3 linked regions of the Homo sapiens genome follow. The protein of the gene in region 3 interacts with the protein of the main gene of each other region in a pairwise test. Each region holds a gene or a part of one and is shown on either strand. Other genes may lie near its edges.

Evidence for each region.
Region 1: the proteins of MGST3 (region 3) and HMOX2 interact in binary tests that used the Homo sapiens proteins (3 or more experiments, as listed by UniProt).
Region 2: the proteins of MGST3 (region 3) and STX8 interact in binary tests that used the Homo sapiens proteins (3 or more experiments, as listed by UniProt).

Annotation. Positions count from the first base shown.
Region 1 is NC_000016.10:4,472,580-4,479,430, reverse strand, and holds the start of HMOX2 (heme oxygenase 2), read right to left. Parts: upstream 3,034-6,851; 5' UTR 2,944-3,033; exon of another isoform or gene 2,766-2,943; intron 168-2,765; exon of another isoform or gene 1-167. Other genes in the region: NMRAL1 (nmrA-like family domain-containing protein 1), read left to right, coding at 5,299-5,338.
Region 2 is NC_000017.11:9,250,788-9,257,825, forward strand, and holds part of STX8 (syntaxin-8), read right to left. Parts: intron 1-7,038. UniProt on the Homo sapiens protein: Vesicle trafficking protein that functions in the early secretory pathway, possibly by mediating retrograde transport from cis-Golgi membranes to the ER.
Region 3 is NC_000001.11:165,634,227-165,641,264, forward strand, and holds part of MGST3 (glutathione S-transferase 3, mitochondrial), read left to right. Parts: intron 1-7,038. UniProt on the Homo sapiens protein: Displays both glutathione S-transferase and glutathione peroxidase activities toward oxyeicosanoids, as part of cellular detoxification as well as synthesis of bioactive metabolites.

The DNA of each region.
Region 1 (6,851 bases), on a different chromosome or scaffold from region 3:
CCAGTCCACTCCCTCCTCTTTCCAGCCTGTGCCTTAGACAAGGACCCCAAACAAGGATCACCTGGGAAACTCCAAAAAACAGATTCCTAGTCATAATCCCAATTTTACCAAAAAAGAAGCGTTTGGAAACCCCTTAGATCGACAAGCAGCATCCAAAGACACCAAAAACTTAGGCTCATCAAGTATTAACTTCCTGCCTCAGCCTCCCAAGTAGCTGAGATTACAGGTATGTGCTAGCATCCTACTTATTGTTCACTCTGATAGAATTTTTTTTTCTTTGAGATGAAGTTTTGCTCTTGTCGCCCAGGCTGGAGTGCAATGGCATGATCTTGGCTCACTGAAACCTCTGCCTCCCAGGTTCAAGCAATTCTCCTTGCTCAGCCTCCCGAGTAGCTGGGATTACAGGCTACTTTTTGCAAGGCTAATTTTTGTATTTTTAGTAGAGACGGGGTTTCACAATGTTAGCCAGGCTGGTCTCGAACTCCTGACCTCAGGTGATCCACCCGCCTTGGTCTCCCAAAGTGCTGGGATTACAGGCGTGAGCCACCGCACCCAGTCTAGGTCAAGTTTTTCATCTCTTTCCTTTCCAAGGAGTTAAAGCTGAATTTCAAATTTTACAGTGAAATACACAATTCTAATTTTCTTTCTTTCTTTTTTTTTTTTTTGAGATGCAGTTTTGCTCCTGTTGCCCAGGCTGGAATGCAGTGGCACAATCTTGGCTCATCGCAACCTCTGCCTCCCAGGTTCAAGTGATTCTCCTGCCTCGGCCTCCCAAGTAGCTCGGATTACAGGCACACACCACCATGCCCAGCTAATTTTTGTATTATTATTATTTTTTTCTTAGTAGAGATGGGGTTTTTCCATGTTGGTCAGGCTGGTCTCTATCTCCCGACCTCAGGTGATCCGCCCATCTCGGCCTCCCAAAGTGCTGGGATCACAAGCATGAGCCACTGCACCGGGCCCACAATTCTAATTTTCAAATATATCTTCCTCCTGGAGGAGTGATATTCCAGTTTTGGGTGCAATCCTGATGTAGAGCCCAACTGTCCTGTGAAGAGAGTCAGCTGTTAAAAGGAAACCAAAAAATCAAGGTAGCTCTAGCTGTCCAATTTTACAAGTTTTCAACAGACTTGATGAGGGGTGAGCTAAAGGCGGTCAATGCTTTATTGTCTGTAACTCACTGGCACTGGCATTTCTAGAGTTGCTCACGTTCCCCCTTTTGGTGACTCACAGCACTTCAACATGTTGCCACAGCCAAGGAAAAAAGGAAATCAAGTCAGACAATGGAGGAATCACAGGATTTCCCTCTTCACATCCCCAGGTAGATGAGGTCATTCAATGAGTGTGTTTCCAAGGCTCCACAAATTCCCACACCCTCACCAGTGTTTAAACCTGAATGTTTTATCTGATAACTTTTTCTAATTTCACCAAGTAAGCTTATATATGTCTTAACTGTGAACTCCTGATAAGCACAAATTTTGTCTTGTGATAATTTATTTTTTTCTTTTTTGAGACAGGGTCTCACTCTGTCACCCAGGCTGGAGTGCAGTGATGCGATCTCAGCTCACTGCAATCTCCACTTCGTGGGCTCAAGTGATCCTCCAACCTCAAACTCCCCAGTAGCTGGGATTACAGACACGCGCCACCCCGCCCGTTTAACTTTTTTGTATTTTTAGTAGAGACGGGGTTTCACCATGTTGGCCAGGCTGATCTCGAACTCCTGACCTCAGGTGATCCGCCTGCCTCGGCCTCCCAAAGTGCTGGGATTACAGGAGTGAGCCACTGCACCGGCCAGCGTTTCTTTCTTCAATCACACTCCACCTTGTCTGGTTTGTAGCGCCATCAACAAAACACAGTACGTAAGGATGGACAGCCACAGGCCACGACAACCGGCTCATCAGAAGCGATTTTTTTTTTTTTTTTTTTTTTTTTTAGATGGAGTCTTGCTCTGTCGCCCAGGCTGGAGTGCAATGGCGTGATCTCGGCTCACTGCAACCTCTGCCTCCCGGGTTCAAGCGATTCTCCTGCCTCAGCCTCCTAAGTAGCTGGAGCTACAGGCTCACGTTACCATGCCCGGCTGATTTTTGTATTTTTAGTAGAGACGGGGTTTCACTATGTTGGCCAGGCTGGTCTCGGACTCCTGACCTCAAGCAATCCGCCCGCCCTGGCCTCCCAAAGTGCTGGAATTACAGGCGTGAGCCACCGACCCGGCCCAGACGCGATTTAAATGGCATGACACAGGCAGGCCTCGTGCAAAGACTGCAAGGAGGTCCCGGCAGCTTTTGCAGGGCAATTAATCCACCCAGAGCACTGCGCTCAGAAAGTAATAGGTAAACCCGCGTCCGGACTAACCGGCTGCCCCCACACTTGATCCCTCCCAGTCCGACTCTGCTCCAGGGCGTACCAGGGTTCACTCGTGAAGTCACGACACCCACTCAAGGGGCACTTCCTATAGAGATAAGGGCATTAGAGGAAGGGCAGAGCCCCGGTCAATGCCAACAGCCCGGGAAACAGCCAAGCCGGGCTCCAATCTCTGCCGGCATCCCCTGTCTGCACCGCCGACGCCCCCAGCTACGACCCCGGGGGTCACCTCGCCCAGCATAGCCGTGACGCTGGGAGAGGGTGGGCCCAACGGGGACGCCAAAGAGAGCCATTCAGGCCTCCCCGCGCCCCCGGGGAGACGACTTCTGGAGAGCGGCGTCCGCGGTTTCGCCCTCCCCTGACAGCCCCTCCACGCCCTTCTTCGTCCTTCTGCCCGGCCTCACCCAGCTTCCGGCCGCCCCCGGCCGGGTCTCCCCTCAGACCGGCGCAGGGGACCCAAAGGGCTGTGGCCCGGCCAAGCCCAGGTCCGAAGGCCTGGACCGAGGCAGGGCCCGCGAAGGACGCAGCGCGGTCCGAGAAGCCGGGCGGAAGGAAGGCCCCGGGAGGGCGCGGACAGCTCACCTGCCGCAGGTCGCTGTCGCCTGTCCGCCAGCCTCCAGTCAGCGTGCCCGTCAGCGACTCCCTCAGGCGCCGCAGTCCCTGCAGCCCAGCGGACTGGCGCGAGGCCGGCGCAACGTGGGCACGCAGCGCGGGGCGGGGCCTAGAGATGACACGCCCCTTGTAGCTGACACGCCCTTGCCGGGGGCGGGAAGCGGAGTATGTGGCTTTCCCCAGGTCTCTGGAGGTTGCAGGCTCAGGCTCTGCTCAGCGGGGTAAGTAGGCGTGCTTCGGCAGGAACACTAGTGTTCACAAGAGCCGAGGTGTGTGAGGGTGCCTCAGGGTTGAGCACTTTTCTTCCCCAGTGTGGTTTAATCCTTGTACATCCACTCAGTGATGTAAGAAATAGGGTTGTCAACCGTGGCACCACCCACTTGGTCACTTGCCAATGCAATCTGCGAAACTGAGTCTCAACTCTGACACCTCGGTTACCAGTCTTGTATCTGATCTCCCTGTTGCATTATTCGCATTCTTCAAACAGCGGCCAGAATGACAGAATGATTTTTCTTTTTTTGAGACCGAGTTTTGCTCGTCGCCCAGGCTGGAGTGCAATGACGTGATCTCGGCTCACTGCAACCCCCTTCTCCCGGGTTCAAGCGATTCTCCTGCCTTAACCTCCCGAATAGCTGGGATTACAAGCGCCTGCCACCACGCCCGGCTAATTTTTGTATTTTTAGTAGAGACGGGGGTTTCACCATGTTGGCCAGGCTGGTCTCGAACTCCTGAGCTCAGGTGATCCACCCGCCTCGGCCTCCCAAATCACTGCAATTACAGGCCACCGCACCCAGCCCAGAGTCATTTTTTAGTTTTACTGAACACAAAGAAATTACTGAAATCGTGGGCCGGGTGTGGTGGCTCATGTCTGTAATCCCAGCACTTTGGGAGCCTGAGGCGGGAAGATCACTTGAGGTCAGCAGTTCGAGACCAGCCTGGCCAGCATGTTGAAACCCCGTCTCTACCAAAAATACAAAAAAATTTTAGCCGGGCATGGTGGCTCCTGCCTGTAATCCCAGCTACTCAGGAAACTGAGGCAGGAGAATCACTTGAACCCAAGAGGCGGAAGTTGCAGTGAGCCAAGATCGCACCACCACTGCACTCCAGCCTGGGCCACAGAGCAAGACTCCACCTTGAAAACAAAAAACAAAAACAAAAAAAAACTGAAATCAGTGCAAGTAGCAGCAACTTCAGAAGTGAGTTAGGGCTGGGCACGGTGGCTCCCACCTGTACTCCCAGCACTTTGGGAGGCTGAGGTGGGTGGATCACTTTAAGTCAGGAGTTCGAGACCTGCCTGGTCAACCTGGTGAAACCCCGTCTCTACTAAAAAATACAAAAATTAGCCGGGCTTGGTGGCACATGCTTGTAATCCCAGCTACTCGGGAGGCTGAGGCAGGAGAATCTCTTGAACCCGGGGGGCGGAGGTTGCAGTAAGCCGAGATCGCGCCACTGCACACCAGCCTGGGCGACGGACCAAGACACTGTCTCAAAAAAATAAAAATAATAAAATTTTAAAAGTGAGTTAGGCAAAGAAAATATCAAGCGGACAAGGCCTCAAGGGATAAGACTCATGGACATAGCTTTAATTATCTTTGCCTGACGCCCAATACCTGAAAATTAAGATGTTCATGCAAGATAAAGAGGTAATTTTTCTCCTCCTCCCAGTCATCACCCGTAGCATCCGGTTAAGAGGCTCTCCACCTCGCTCATTTTGGTCTAACTGGATTTACACAAACTCACTGTGCACGTGCCTGGGGCGGGCAAACCCGGAAACGACGCCGAGTCCCGCGGGATCCAGGAGGAGCCAACTGCGCCGGAGGAGGGGTTTCGGCCGACACGTCGGGATTGGCGGCTGCAGCCAGGGGTCCTCCGACGCTGGGCTTCCGTGAGCGGCGCTCTGCCAGGTGGGGCCGGAGCTGCGGGGAGGGAGTTGGCGCCTAGCGCGCAGCTCCATCCCCGCCTCTGCAGTGGACTCGGCCGCAGAATCGGGGTCCCGGGCTCCTGGAACTTGTCCCGCCCAGGCCGCGGCGAGGAGGTCACTCCAGCCGGTGGGACCCGGGCCGGGGGGCGGGTGACTGGAACCGGGGGAGGCGGGAAGGAGGAGGGGATCGGGCCCAAGGGACACGAGGTGGGTCGCGGGACCCCGATATCTCGGGACAGGCGTCTTGCCGCTCCGGGCCCAGCCGCCCCCTTCGACACATACTCGATGCATAGACAATGGGGGTGTCCTTTGTCGCTCCTGGCGGGAACCCCGGCCCCACCCCCAACTCCACGCCTCCCATTACCCCCAGATCTCTGGACCGGATTCGTCCCATTCTCGTCCTCATGGTGGACAAGAAACTGGTGGTGGTTTTCGGAGGCACAGGTGAGCCAAACCCCAGACTGGGGCCCTTGCAGAGCCAGGGCGCCTAGCCCTGAAGACCGCCCGTCCTGGGGTCTGCAGGGAGGGGTAAGGTCACTGGGACCCCCGACCCAGGTTGGGGCTGTGGTCGCAGGAACGAGGCCCAAATTGCTTTCCAATTTTTTTTTTTTTGGACGGAGTTTTGCTCTGTCACCCAGGCTGCAGTGCGATGGCACGATCTCGGCTCATTGCAACCTTTGCCTCCCGGGTTGAAGCGATTCTCCTGTCTCAGCCTCCCGAGTAGCTGGGATTACAAGGGCATGCCACCACGCCCGGCTAATTTTTGTATTTTTAGTAGAGACGGGGTTTCATCATATTGGTCAGGCTGGTCTCAAACTCCTGACCTCAGGTGATGACCCGCCTCGGCCTCCCAAAGTGCAGGTATTACAGGCATGAACCACCACGCCAGACCTGCTTTCCAAATTAAAAAAAAATGAGTTACTTAACTTATTTGAATAGGAGTACTTGAACATGATACCAAAATTAAATCTTCTTCCTAGCCTCCTCTTCCACCTCATCTATTGCTGTTACCAAGTTTCTTGAATATCCTGCCAGAGTAGATAACATGTTATCATTTTTTCAAATGATAGCATATTATTTCATTCCTATTTTTTCTTATTTATACATATTTAATATCTCTAACAGCTTTATTGAGATATAATTCACGTACTATACAATCTACCTGTTTAAAGTGTGCAACTCACTGGTTTCTAGTGTATTCATAGAATTGTACAACCATCACCACAATCAATTTTAGAAAATTTCCATCACTCCAAAAAGAAACTCTGGCCCAGGTGCAGTGGCTCAACCCTGTAATCCCAGCACTTTAGTTGGACCAAATGGGCAGATCGCTTGAGCTGAGGTGTTTGAGACCAGCCTGAACAACAGGGCAAAATCTCGTCTCTACAAAAAAATACAAAAATTAGTGGGGCGTGGTGTCATGCACCTATAGCTACCTAGGAGGTTGAGGTGGGAGGATCACCTGAGTCCAGCAGGTCAAGGCTGCAGTGACCTGATTGTGCCACTGCACTCCAGCCTGGGCAACAGAGTGAGACCTGATCTCAAAAAAAAAAAAAAAAAAAAGAACTCCATGAACCCGTGAACAGTTACTCCCCATTCTTACTCCTCCCAGCCAACCCCTAGAAAGCTCCAATCTACTTTTGGTTTCTATGGATTTGTCTATTCGGGACATTTCATATGAATAAAATCATAATATGTAGCCTTTTCTCTCTGGCTTCTTCAGTTAGCATGTTTTCAAGGTTTGTTCATGTTGTAGTGTGTGTCCGGGCTTTACTCTTTTTTTTTTTTTTTTTGAGACAGAGTCCCGCTCTGTTGCCCAGGCAGCAGTGCAGTGGCGTGATCTCTGCTCACTGCAACTTCTGCCACTCGGGTTCAAGCGATTCTCCTGTCTCACCCTCCTGAGTAGCAGGGACTACAGGCGTGAGCCACCATGCCTGGCTAATTTTTGTATTTTTAA
Region 2 (7,038 bases), on a different chromosome or scaffold from region 3:
GCCTGGGGCGCCGCTGCTGCTACACAGCTCTGGCTTTGCAGGATGCTGAGTGCAGAAGGCAGGGGCCTGGGTGTGGCCAGGCCCCCCCAGGCAGCACTCAAGCCAGGAGGGGGTGAGGCCCCTAACTCTAGCATCTGTGTACACCTTGGACCACAAGGGAGGGCGCAAGCTGCTGACGACAGCCACCCTCACTACCCAATCAGATTATGCATTGATGACGCATTGATAAAGCAAAGGGCTTAGGAGAGCATTCTAGAACCCATTTCTCCATTCTCCACATGGCTTCACTTTGTGTTCTTGAGTCCAAGATCCTTAAGTCACCCATTTGTAAAAATATTCACCGATAGAGGTGCTTGTTTTGATATATACTTTTTCTGCTAGTATTTGCTAGTTTCATTTCCTGACGTTTTTGGCTGGAGAGCACAGGCCCTCCTAGCCAGCCCATGCTGGGTGCCACTCTGCCTTCCAGCCCCGCCCTGCCTCCTCTGGGTCGTGTGTCTGCACTGACCATTGCCTGTTCCTTCACCTGATGCTGATGAAGTGGGCCCCACAGAATGCAGCCCTCACTTAGTGCAATGAGCTCACTGTCTCCCATGTTCGCTTGCCCAGTATTTAACGAGTGTTTACCACGTGCCAGGTACCAGCGGCGACAAGGTATAGCATAACAGAGAAGGGGCGCCCTACTACAAAGTAAGCACTCAAGAAAGGTTTGCTCACTGAAGAGTCCTTGAGCTGCCAAGGCCCCACGAGAGAGGTGGGTAGCAGAGGAGGAGAGGTCCATGAAAATGCTTCAGAAAGTAACAGGGAGAGCCACGTGTGCAGGGTCACATGGTTGCACAGCCATCAGGACTGCTGAACGCCACGGTAGTCTGTGGCATATGTTCGTGAGCAAAGAAAATGCTAAATTTCAATTAGACATTTGTGAACATAAGAGTCCAATTTGCTTTCCGGTCCAAGTTCACGGGCTTCCCGAATCCCCTCCACAGATCCTCAGGGTTCAATGTGGATCAGGCCATACCAATCTTAAGCTCAACCCATGTGGGCACTGCACCATGGTTTTGAATATTGAAGAGACTTAAAAATGTATGGCAAGTGGCTGGGTGCAGTGGCTCACACCTGTAATCCCAGCACTTTGGGAGGCCAAGGCGGGCGGATCATCTGAGGTCAGGAGTTCGAGACCAGCCTGACCAACATGGTGAAACCCCATCTCTATTAAAAATATATTTAAAAAAATAGGCCGGGCACGGTGCCTCATGCCTGTAATCCCAGCACTTTGGGAGGCCGAGGCGGGCAGATCATCTGAGGTCAGGAGTTCGAGACCAGCCTGGCTAACATGGTGAAACCCCGTCTCTACTAAAAATATATTTAAAAAATTGGCCGGGCGCAGTGGCTCACGCCTGTAATCCCAGCACTTTGGGAGGCCGAGGCGGGCGGACCATGAGGTCAGGAGATCGAGACCATCCTGGCTAACATGGTGAAACCCCATCTCTACTAAAAGTACAAAAAATTAGCCTGGCGTGGTGGCAGGCGCCTGTAGTCCCACCTACTTGGGAGGCTGAGGCAGGAGAATGGCGTGAACCCGGGAGGCGGAGCTTGCAGTGAGCCGAGATTGCGCCACTGCACTCCAAACTGGGCAACAGAGCAAGACTCTGTCTCAAAAAAAAAAAAAATATTAGCCAGGTGTGGTGGTGGGTGCCTGTAATCCCAGCTACTTGGGAGGCTAAGGCAAGAGAATCGTTTGAACACGGGAGGCGGAGGTTGCAGTGAGCTGAGATCACACCACTGCAATACAGCCTGTGCAACAACAGTGAAACTCTGTCTCAAAAAAAAAAAAAAAAGAAAACGAAAATAAAAAAAAAAACTAGGGCAAGCTTCTTTGTCATCTACCTGTGACTGTGGTTGCATTTTTCTGATATGGGCTCTTTCTCTGATGATCCAATCTTTTGAGAAACGCTTCTCTTGGGGCCCCAAGGTTTCTCCCCCGTCTTCCTGTAGATGAAAACCTCATCCTAGTCTACCTCAAGGCTCTGCCAACTTTGGTTCATGGGCCAAATCTAGCTGTGCTCTGTTTTTGTGCAACCCATGAGCTAACAATGGTTTTTATATTTGTAGAGGGTTGTCAAAAAGGTAAAAGGAGGAGATGTGACACCGTCTGTGGTCTGCACAGCCTAAACCGTTTACGACCTGGCCTCTTCCAGAGGCTTGCTAGCTCCTGCTCTCCATCATCATGATGATGACCCACCTGCAGCATCAGTTCGCCCACTTAGGCGCTGGCCTTCAATGCGCTCTTCATTTCTTTCATCTAGGGATTTCCTTTCTTCCTTGTAAATTCAGCCCTGCATTAACATTTGTGGGTGGGTGGAGTTACACTATTTTACCTCACATTTCAAGATGCTTGCAGCAAGAAGGCAGGGGTAGGGGTGTGTGTGTGTGTGTGTGTGTGTGTGTGTGTGTGTGAATATCTTAGTCCATCTGCAGTGAGAAGGTAGGGATACGGGTGTGTGTGTGTATGCGTATGTGTGTGTATGTGAGAATATCTTAGTCCATCTTCTTGCCAGAAGCAGAAGAACAAATCTTTTCACTGATTTCTGCTCCAGAAACATCTTCAGGTTGACCAAAAGCTCCCCTGGGCAGGAGCTTCACTAGTTCTTGGTTATTCTGGTGCCTGTGTGGTGATCAGCTGAAGACTTGGTCCTGGCTGGGTGAAGGTTTATGTTGCGCAACATGAGGAGAAGATAACGAGAATGAGGAGGCAGGCACAGGCTGGGATGGGGCGAAGGGGCAATCCCTGGCACTCCAGGGCCTGGGCTCACCCTAAGATGACAGGGAGGGGCTGGCAGCTGAGGAGATGAGGGAGAGGATGAGAGGTGTTTTAGGAAGAGGTACTGCTCCTGAAGCTCCAGTGGGATCACAGTTGGGAGGACACTTGGGCCCAGAAGCTCCATGCATCAAGGCAGGCTCCACACTGAGGCTCTGATGGCCTGGAGCAGAGGCCAGTATGAATGACCGTGAATTGTCAAATCAGGGTGATTATGAGAAGAGCGGAGCAAGTGACAAGAACAAAGAAATCAAGAACAACAACTGATTGGGAAGAAGAAAACACACATCTGGTTTTGGTTCATACACCCGGAGCGTGAGGTCCAAGGGAAGAGGCCTCAAGGCATGCGCAGTCACTGCCATCCCTGATTTGGCTCCCTGCAGTGAGGGACTGCTTTCCCCGGTCCCTGCTCCACGATGGAACTACAGCAAGCTTTTCAGAATGTAAAGGAGATCAGGTCACCTCCTTGCTTAAATCCTCCAGTGGCTGAAACTGAGATCCAAACTTTACAGTGGCCAAGGGGGTCTTGCACAGTCTGACCCAGCAACCCTGCAGCCGCACTCTGCGCGCTGTGTTTGAGCCATCCTGGCTGTCTCCGGTGCCCCCAACAGGCTGATGCAGAAGGTAGGGGCCCTGCCTCCCAGCTTCGACACGCGCTATCCTTTCCATCCGGGAGCTCCCCACTCGTGGTCTAGTTAATCCCTCAAACTCAGTGGCATTTTCCCAAAGAACTCTTTGTCATCCTCCAGTTACCTGTGCCCTCTTTGCCCCCCTAAGTTTCCATGGTAACTCTTATTAAATCTTTTTTTTTTTTGAGATGGAGTCTCGCGCCCAGGCTAGAGTGCGGTGACGTGATCTTGGCTCACTGCAGCCTCCGCCTCCTGGGTTCAAGCAATTCTCCTGCTTTAGCCTCCCAAGTAGCGGGGATTACAGGTGCCCACCACTATGCCCGGCTAATTTTTGTATTTTTAGTAGAGACAGGGTTTCACCATGTTGGCCAGGCTGGTCTCGAACTCCTGACCTCAAGTGATTTGCCCTCCTGGGCCTCCCAAAGTGCTGGGATTACAGGCGTGAGCCACCGCGCCCGGCCTTGAATCATTATTTAGGTACTCAGTTACTGTCTGTCTCTCCTGGACACATGAACATCTACACCAGGGACTGTGGGTTCTCGTTCACCGCCATATCCCCCGTACCTAGAACAGAGCCTGGCACAGGAAAGAGGCACACACACACGCGCACGTGTGTGCATGTGTGTGTGTGTGTATAAAACAAATGAGTAAATGTATTGAATTTTTGGAAGGGATAAGAAGAGTCAAGAGAGGCATAGAAGGAGTGGTCAGCAGAGAGGGAGAAGCTGAGAAAATGTGGCAAGAAGGCCAATGAGTAAGAAAATTCAAAAAGTGGCCAATGCCAACCCACAATACTACAGAGACAAGATAGAAGAATGCTCTTCCACAGAAGAGCTGCAGAGACCTTTCATAGTACAGTTTTAGCGCATGGTGGGTGGGTCTAGTGGAACTATTATTAATACAGTGGTGGCTAAGCTGCTAATTTTTCTACCACAGATGCTGTGAATTAGACAAACTGTGCCCCAGGAAAGGCATGACAGGGCACACATTATCTATAAAAAATGAAAATGGGCCAGGCGCTGTGGCTCACGCCTGTAATCCCAGCACTTTGGGAGGCCAAGGCGGGCGGATCATCTGAGGTCAGGAGTTTGAGACCAGCCTGGCCAACACAGAGAAACCACGTCTCTACTAAAAATACAAAAATTAACCGGGCATGGTGGTGCACGCTTGTAGTCCCAGCTACTTGGGAGGCTGAGGCAGGAGAATCACTTGAACTCGGGAGGCGGAGGTTGTGGTGAACTGAGATTGTGCCACTGCACTCCAGCCTGGGCAACAGAGCAAGACTCCATCTCAAAATAAATAAATAAATAAATAAATAAATATATAAATAAATAAATAAATAAATAAATAAATGAAAATGAACTTGAGTGATGGACATCTTGGACAGTAAGCTGATAAGATGTGATAAACTGGGTTCTTGTCCCAAGATGAAAAGGAGGATTTTAGGAGCCATGACAAATAAGGCTTTTATATTTTAAACCCTTTCAGAGCAAACAGGGGGAGACTTTAAACAGGCTTAAGTAAACTGGTATATACTGAGGGTCAACTGAGGAGGTCGTTTTAAGATGGCAGGTGACAGCGATAAGCAAAAGCCAACTGCTGTCTTTTGGATTCTTTGGGTCAAAGAGAAGGTGTTTATCTACCTTAGCACGGCAATCCTTTTTCTTTAAGAAGTTTGGCTTTCTTCGAATGTGATCCCAGCTCTGGCACCTTTCTGAATGGAGTTTCTCTCCTCTGAAGGATGTTTCGGAATGAGTAAGCAGGGATCTTTTTGAAGCCAGGGAAAGCTGAGCCACACCGTTCATGAAACAGTCATGCGTGCCAGGTTTGGCACTAAGTGCTATGGGTGTATTACTTGGTTTAATTCTGCACAGTAAGTAACCCTCATCTCTGTTTTATATCTGAGGAAGCTGGGGTTCTGGAAGGTGAACTCTCCTACCTAAGGCCCTCTGGCGGGTAAGAGGAAGAACTAGAATTGGAATCCAGGTGGGTAGGACCCCTCTGCCCACACGCTCACCCTTGTCTACACCAGTGGAGCTTGAGTGGAGGCATCCTGATTCGAGACAGTGTGGGGGTCCCTCGGGGAGAGAGGCTCAGACTCACTGGGGTTGAAACACCGGGATCAAGAGTTTCTTCTCTTTTCATCCTCTTCTCTTTCTCCCTCCCTCCTTCCCTTCCTTAACGTTTTATGATGGAAAATTTTAAACATATACAAAAGCAGACCGAAGGGCACGCAGAACAGTGATGAGCCCATCCGTCAGCTTTCGCAAGGATCCATTCATGGCCTGTCTGGCTTTATGCAAACCCTCACCTGCTCCCTGTCTCCTGCATATTATTTTGAAACAAATTCCAGACATAGGTCATCTACAAATATTTCAGTAAGTATCACTAAAAGGCACCATTAAAAAGACACACACACTCCCCCACTACCCACATAACCACAGAGGGTCTGACGGTTCCTAAAGGCAGAGGCAGGGAAGAGCTGGCAACTCTTCTGATGTAGGAAGGTGGCTCCAGTTTCAGGGGCGCAGCCGACCCCCCTGCCGGAGGGACATGGGACCTCACATCGTACTCGGTCACGTGTGAAAAGCAGAACTTCCTTCTTCTGCCTCAGAATAGTTCTTAAACCTCAGGGGGGTCTACTCATCCATTCCCCCAGCTAAGGAAATGTTTGACATTTCAGAACAAGGAAAGACAGTTGAACTTCTGGGAGGCTGCCAACTTCTTAAACAATGAATGCTCTCTGCCCCCAACCCTAGCACAGAACACCTGCTGCGGCTCCTGACTTCGGGATCGTTTCTCTGCGCTTCACTCAGCTCCTGCCCTGGGCCCGCTGGCACCTGGCGAGGCAGATTTTCCCTTCCAATACTCAAGAGTCCCTTTCAGGGGCAGGCATGGGATGCCAGGGTTACAAGAGTGGAAAAAAATGTCCATTTCCTTTGGTCAGTTTACCAGATGAGTATTACTCAACCACTTACAATATTTACAAGTCCAGCTCATGGCAATTAAAAAAAGATGTAAGAAAACAAACTCCTTTTCAAACTGGGAGAGGATATTAAACACAGTCTCTCAGGAATGGTGTTTTCTGAAGACTCGTCATCTGGAGTCATGGTCCATACTTTTTTCCAGTGAAACACTGGAAACGAGCAAAATACGGAGCTTGTGCTGCCAACGCCCCTGCCACAAGTTGGGTGTAGGTAACAGCTCTCAGTGCTTACTGACATGGAGGAGGAGGGGAAGGAGGAGAAAGAATCTGGAGGCTGACTTTTCGAGAGAGTGTGGATCTCTGTGTTGGCCACTTCTGCCCTGTAGCTGCAGGGGAACGTGGCAAGTAGGCTGATGGGAAAGCAAGAGGCAGGGAGGGGTGAAGGGCGCTTTATCCAGGAGTCTTTTTATCTGGTTTTGTTGCAAGGAAAGCCGCCTTAGCTGCCTACTACTATTTTGGTTGTCTTGAACCAAAACACATATTCTGGCCAGGCGTGGTGACTTATGCCTGTAACCCCAGCACTTTGGGAGGCCAAGGCGAGTGGATCACCTGAGGTCAGGAGATTGAGACCAGCCTGGCCAGCATGGCCAAACCCCGTCTCTACT
Region 3 (7,038 bases):
GGCTGAGAGCACAAACTGGAGCCAGACTGCTTGGGGGTGTGGGGATCTGGCTGTGCTCTGTGATCGCTGTGTGACCTTGGGCAGGTCACTTAACCTTTCTGGTACTGCGTTTCTTCATCTGCAAAATGGGAGTAATATCATAGGGATGCTGTGAGGATCTAAATGAGTTAATACTGATGAACTAACTGCTTAGAACAAGGTTTGCCCCTTACTAAATACTGTGCACGGTGGTAATAAGTAATAATAATTGATTTCTCCTACTTTTCTTCCTCTAGTCTATATCACTACCCTTCAGACACACTGGACTCTTTTCTCTCCTTCATACAAGTCAAGCCTTTTTCTGTCTCCAAGTCTCTGCTCTTGCTGTTTTCTTTACCTGTGTTCTCTCTCACATATCACTTTATGCTCTTCAGATCCTTTGTCGCAATGTCACCCTTATGTTTTATGGTATGGTCCTGCTGTGTTTTTGTCTTCCCTGACTGCATGCTCACTCGTGCTCTCTCTCAATCATGCGCTCTCTCTCTCTCTCCCTCCCTCCCTCTCTCTCCCTCCCTCTCCCTCCCTCCCTCCCCCCCACTCTCAACTGTGTATTCTAGAGAGTCAGGACCTTCCTTCTCATTCTTGATCATTCTCATAGTAGCCCTGCCCCTTGAGTGGAACATGGCATTTAGTAAAGGATGAATAAGGGAAGGAATCATTCTGAGAAAATACTGAAGATGATAGCTATGGACTTGAGGCAAGCATCCCATTTAGGTAAAATGCTTTGTCCGACATTGAATTTATCATATCAGCTTCATTTAATGCATTATGAGATGTTGTCTTTATTTTTCCTTCTGTATCCCATGGCTTCTCACCATTCCCCTCCCCCTCCACCCCGCCCTCTGAGGTTGCTGCCTGCAGACCATGGGAAACATCCAGTGGGTTGTCCCTGGGATCACATCTCTTGGGAAGCTCAGCTCCAAAGGGTCTAGCAAAGCCCAGGGCTTCTAGGTTAGGTATCTCCCACAGAACCTTCTGTGTCAAGAATCTGGGAAAGTTTGTCCTTATACCTGCAGGGGAACCTGGAATTTATTCTGTCTTGTTATAAATCTAGTATTCTTAGATTCCTGAAGAACAGAATTACCAGTTTTTTCTCAGAGGAGATTTCATCAGGCATGTGTGTTTAGTGCCTTATTACACAGAAGGCACACTCCAGAGAAGAAGAAAGCAGGTAATTTGCTTATTTGGCTTTAACAGAGTTTCAACAGAGTTCGTGTGAGTGCAAGCTTGTGCTCTATAACCAAGAACCATTCACTGGAACTTGAGCATCCTGCTGATCTTCCCTCCCCCACTCCCAGCCAGTGCAGCCATGTATTAAGCAATTGTTTTCAGTACCAACAGTTTACCAAAGTGTTGGAATAAAAACGACATCTAAAACTTGAATATTTTATATGGCCAAACTATGGCTATTTAACTATACAGTTGAATATATTTGGATTATAACATATTTATCTCTTAAAGGGACAGATCTTCCATCCTCCTAACATATAGTTAGCTTCCACTCTCCAAATATTCCACCAGCAACATTGATGAATATTGAAGACTATGGACTGTGAGGTACTGTGAAAGACCCACTCTAGGACCTGCTTGCTGCTATTTGCCTTACTTGAACCAGTAATCAAGTGCTGGATAAATAATATGATTTCTATTCAACTTTTTGTTTTTAGCCCTTAGGGAACAATCTACTGAATATGCAATGCAATTGTCGGGGGATAGTTACTTTTCATTACCTAGGTTTCTGTTCCTTCTTTTAAGTGTAATTTAAATCTGGCTGTCATGAAGGTTTGGCGCTCAAACAGATTTTAGCATCTGTTTAATGTAGAAGTGGACTGGAACTAGCATTCTGAAAATGTAGTCTGAACCCAAAGAAATCCCATGACTCTCCTTTTCTGTCCTATCATAGAAACAGATAATTACATTTTTAAAGTTTTTGTGTGTGGGTGTGTGTGTTGTCATTTTGAGGTGGGGTTTCACCATGTTGCCCAGGCTAGACTCAAACTCCTAGGCTGAAGCAGTCCTCCCACCTCAGCCTCCCAAGTAGCAGGGATTACAGGTGTGCACTACTGCACCCAGCTTAAGTTTTACTTTGTTTCTAATAGATATATAATATTGGATATATTTATGAGATACAGTGTGATGTTTTAGTACGTATATACATTGTGTAATGAGCAAGAGGATTGCGTTTATGGGCCAGGCACGGTGGCTCATGCCTGTAACCCCAGCACTTTGGGAAGCCAAGGTGGGTGGATCACCTGAGGTCAGGAGTTCGAGACCAGTCTGATCAACATGGTAAAAACCCATCTCTACTAAAAATACAAAAATTAACCGGGGCGTGGTAGCACACACCTGTAGTCCCAGCTACTTAGGAGGCTGAGGCAGAAGAATCACTTGAACCTGGGAGGCAGAGGTTGCAGTGAGCTGAGATGGCACCACTGCACTCCACCCTGGCAACACAGTGAGACTCCGTCTCAAAAAAAAAAAAAATTGTTTTTATGTTACTTCCCTCTAGGCTCTTTAATTTCTCCATTGAGCATTGTGTGAGCTCCGCTGAGCATTGTATGGAGGGTCAGCTGCCCTGGCTGGAGATGGTTTTGAGGCTTGTTCCTTCGTGGAAACATCTGGATGCAGAAGTTAGGCTGTACAACTATCCAGGGGAGCTTTAAGTGAGCCAAGTGGACCCTCAGCACCACCTCAGAGTGTTCTAAGCTACCGTCTGGTGTTTGGGACTCAGGGAAGTCCTTTTGGTATGATCAGACTAGCCCTTTATGTGACTATCCTTGTGTGTTACTCTCATTAAAATATTGATTTTTGCCATGTAAGGAAGATTGGAATAGCACAGGCAGCCGAATAAGGATTTTAATGAAACATTGGAGAATGGCTTCAAGTTAATCTGTGAATGCTTTGTCATTGTCCCATCCCTGGACACATTAAAAAGAAAAAAAAGAGCAGTTGAGAAATTGCAGTACAATTTGAGGAGAGCAATATCATACACAGAAGTAGGGACTACTTTTGTCAAAGCTGGATTTTATTTATTTGGGAGCAAAGAGAGAGAGCTGAAAGACATAATCTTCTCTCCCTTAAGAATCTCATTGTCATTTAGTAAAATAAAAGGTAGTGTCACTTCATGGCTCAGAAGTGGTAAATTATTTGAGGCAGGTACCCAAATCCATAAAGCCTGCCTTTTGCTTTGTTTGTGGAATGCTGATTGTGTGCTGGGGAATTTCTGATGGGCAGCCAAGAGGAATTTGGGAAGTAGTGAAGGAGACCTTTACCCCAGGAGTGTTCTATTGGATGTAGTTCAGGAAGCTTTCTGGGTAAGCCTTGCAACCAAAGGAACCCTGCCCCAGTAAGATACGTCAAATGGTGGCAGAAGCAAGAATTAGAGGAAAGGTTGAGCAACATTTTGGTATTTGAATAGCTGTGTTCCCAGGAAACTCTGTCAGTAAAATTTCTAGAGGTTAAGTACCTTAGCCAGATGTCATAATGAACCCCTGTGTTGCTAACTCAAATGCTGGAATGGAGCATGTGTTTTAGGAGTTAGACCAACACTGCCTCATCTTAAGCCCAAGTCTGATCACTCCTAAACTGAAACTTTGCAAATGTGTGTGTTGTAGCTTACTTAAAACCCATTGGGTGTCTGCTAACTCTGGCTACACTGAAAAGTTTTTGCTATTCTACCACCCACGGACGTCAGAGCCCTGCTGCTTACCAGGGCATGTTAGTCTCCTAATCTACCCCTGAAAACCTACCATGGCCCGGGGCTTTTCTGCTACCCCCCACGTCCTATACCCTGCTTGCTTCAAAATACTGTTCCTAGTTTTCTTCCCCTAACTTGATAATGTACTCCAAAACAATCATGTTTGGCAAGTAATACACTGATAAATGTAAAAGTTACAAATAGAAGTGCTGCTGTGTTTTTAAAACATTATAGGGCCAGGAGCAGTGGTTCATGCCTCTTATCCCAGCACTTTGGGAGGCTGAGAGAGGCAAATTGCTTGAGCTCAGGAGTTCGAGACCAGCCTGGCCAACATAGCGAAACCCCGTCTGTACTAAAAATACAAAAAATTAGCTGGGCATGGTGGCACACACCTGTAATATCAGCTACTTTGAGGCAGAAGGATTGCTTGAGTCCAGAGGTCAAGCCTGCAGTGAGCCCTGATTGTGCCACTTCCACTCCAGCCCGGATGACAGAGGGGGACCCTGTCTCAAAACAAAAACAAAACAAAACAAAAACCCAGCCAGGTACGGTGGCTCACACCTGTAATCCCAGCACTTTCGGAGGCCAAGGAGGGTGGATCACTTGAGGTCAGGAGTTCAAGACCAGCCTGGCCAACATGGCGAAACCCTGTCTCTACTAAAATACAACAATTAGCTGGGCATGGTGGTGCATGTCTGTAATCTCAGCTACTTAGGAGGCTGAGGCAGGAGAATCACTTGAACCCAGGAGGTGGAGGTTGCAGTGAGCCAAGATCGTGCCACTGCACTCTGCCACTCACTCTAGCCTGTGGGACAGAGAGAGACTCCGTCTTAAAAAAAAAAAAAAACCCACATTCTAGAAATAATTAGGTTTCTAAAGTATTCTTAAAAGGGGCATCTGTGGAAACCAGCCACTAATAACATATTTAAAGGAGAGAGACTGAATGCTTCCCCCTAAGATGAGGAAAGAGGCAAGGATGTCGGCACTTGCCACTGGTATTCAACATTGCATTGCCCCTAACCAGGACAATCAGTCAAGAAAAAAAAATAAATAAAAGACATCCACATTGGAAAGGAAGAAGTAAAACTGTCTCTCTTTGCAGATGGTATGATCCTCTATGTAAAGTATTCCAACGATCGTGGATCTGTCTCTCCCTCCCCTATGCTCTTGGGCCCTGGCTCTGTTTCTCTCCTGGAGTAGAAGCCTGTGGTGCAGCAGGATTCAATTGCCTTCAATTGAACGTTGCAGAGGACTTTCCCCTCGGTGCTTCCCGTACTGGGGGAAGAGGTGATTTAACTTCTGAGTAAGGGACAAACCCAGTAGTGTGTTAGTAGCAAAAAGCATGGACACTGGCATCAGTCTGCCTGTATTCAGACACCAGCTGTGCACTCATCAGCTGTGGGACCTTAGGCAAATTGTTGAATTTCTCTTTGCCTCCATTTCCTCATCCATAGAATGGGGATAATAATAGTAACTATCATATGGGATTGTTGTAAGGATGGAAAGTGTTAAAATATCTAAACTCTGTTACAGTGCCTGCCATAAAAGAAGCACTCTAGGCCTGGCGCGGTGGCCCATGCTTGTAATCCCAGCACTTTGGGAGGCTGAGGCAGGTGGACTGCTTGAGGTCAGGAGTTCGAGACCAGCCTGGCCAACATGGCGAAACCCCATCTCTACTAAAAATACAAAAATTAGCTGGGTGTAGTGACATGTGCCTGTGATCCCAGCTACTCTGGAGGTTGAGGCATGAGAATTGCTTGAACCCGGGAGGCAGAGGCTGCAGTGAGCTGAGATAGCACCCCTACACTCCAGCCTTGGTGACAGAGCAAGACCCTGTCTCAAAACAAAACAAAACAAAAGAAGCACTCTATGGGACCAGGTCTTATAGTTAGGTATTATATATGTAGTAGTGATATTTTCAGTTTTGCTGTTTCTGCCAGATGGGATGAAAAATTCCATGAGAAGTTGGCTGGAAGTCCTACTGATTCATTAAATAGGCCTTTCATTTGAAGTCATGTTTCTAATCATTCAGAAGTTGAGGTATGCCTGATCCATGGTATTAGAAGGGATGATCCCAGAGAGGTCATTCTGTAGCATAATGAGCATTACTTTTGAAGGATGGAGAACCTAGAACTCTGACTCATTTGACTATGGGAAAATCTGATCTGGTGAGTGACCATGACCATGAAGTGAGATCTGGTAACCCAATGGTGGTCACAGGATAGAGACTCTGAAGATACTGAGCTGGCTTACACACTTGCTTTGTTGTCTCGAACCTCTGTTAAAGCTGAAAGAAGAAGTCAGTCTTCTGCTGGGCACACTGTTAGTGTGTAATTGTGAAGAGCTTAGCTGGAGCTTGCTCTTCACAACAGTCTCTGATCTCATCAGCCCCATTCTGTTTTCAGGGGTGGTACAGAAGGAGCACCTCAGGAGCCTCCAAAGATAGTAGTAGAATATAACCACCAAGACAAGACTGTGACTGTGGTTTTGAATCAGATAGAATCACCACCTCCTGCAAATTTTGTTTTTGCTCAGAACAGTGGTTCTTAAAATGTGGTCCTTGACCAACATCATCAGCATTACCTAGGAACTAGTTAGATATGATAATACTCAGGCCCCACCTAACATGACTGAACCAGAAACTCTGGGACTGAGGTATGTTTTAACAAACTCTCCAGGTGATTTTAATGCCACCAAAGTTTGAGAACCACTGATCTAGGATATAGAACAGCAGCATTCTACTGAGTTTCTGTCTTCATGCAAGTTGCTATAAAAAATATAAGCAAGGAGACACGCTCTCTGTCCTCAAAGAGCACATAGTCCATCTAGAGAGGTATACTATATTCAATGCCACACAAAGGAGGCCTTCCCAGCCGGGATCCTGATGCAACAGCCCTGCCCAGTCTCTATGCCATTGCCGTGTGTTTTCCCCAGAAGAGTTCCCATTCTTGGCCAGGTGCCTGTAATCCTAGCACTCTGGGAGGCTGAGGCAGGTGGATCACCTGAGGTCAGGAGTTCGAGACCAGCCTGGCCTACGTGGTGAAACCCCGTCTCTACTAAAAATACAAAAATGAGCCTGGTGTGATGGTGGGCACCTATAATCCCTGCTACTCGGGAGGCTGAGGAAGGAGAATCACTTGAACCCAGGGGGCGGAGGTTGCAGTGAGCCTAGATCGTGCCACTTCACTCTAGCCTGGGGGGAAGAGCAAAACTTTGTCTCAAAACAAAAAAAGAGTTCCCACTCCCTGAAGCTGTTTTTTGTTTGCATGTTTGTTGTCAGTCTCCTGTCATCATTCGAAGGT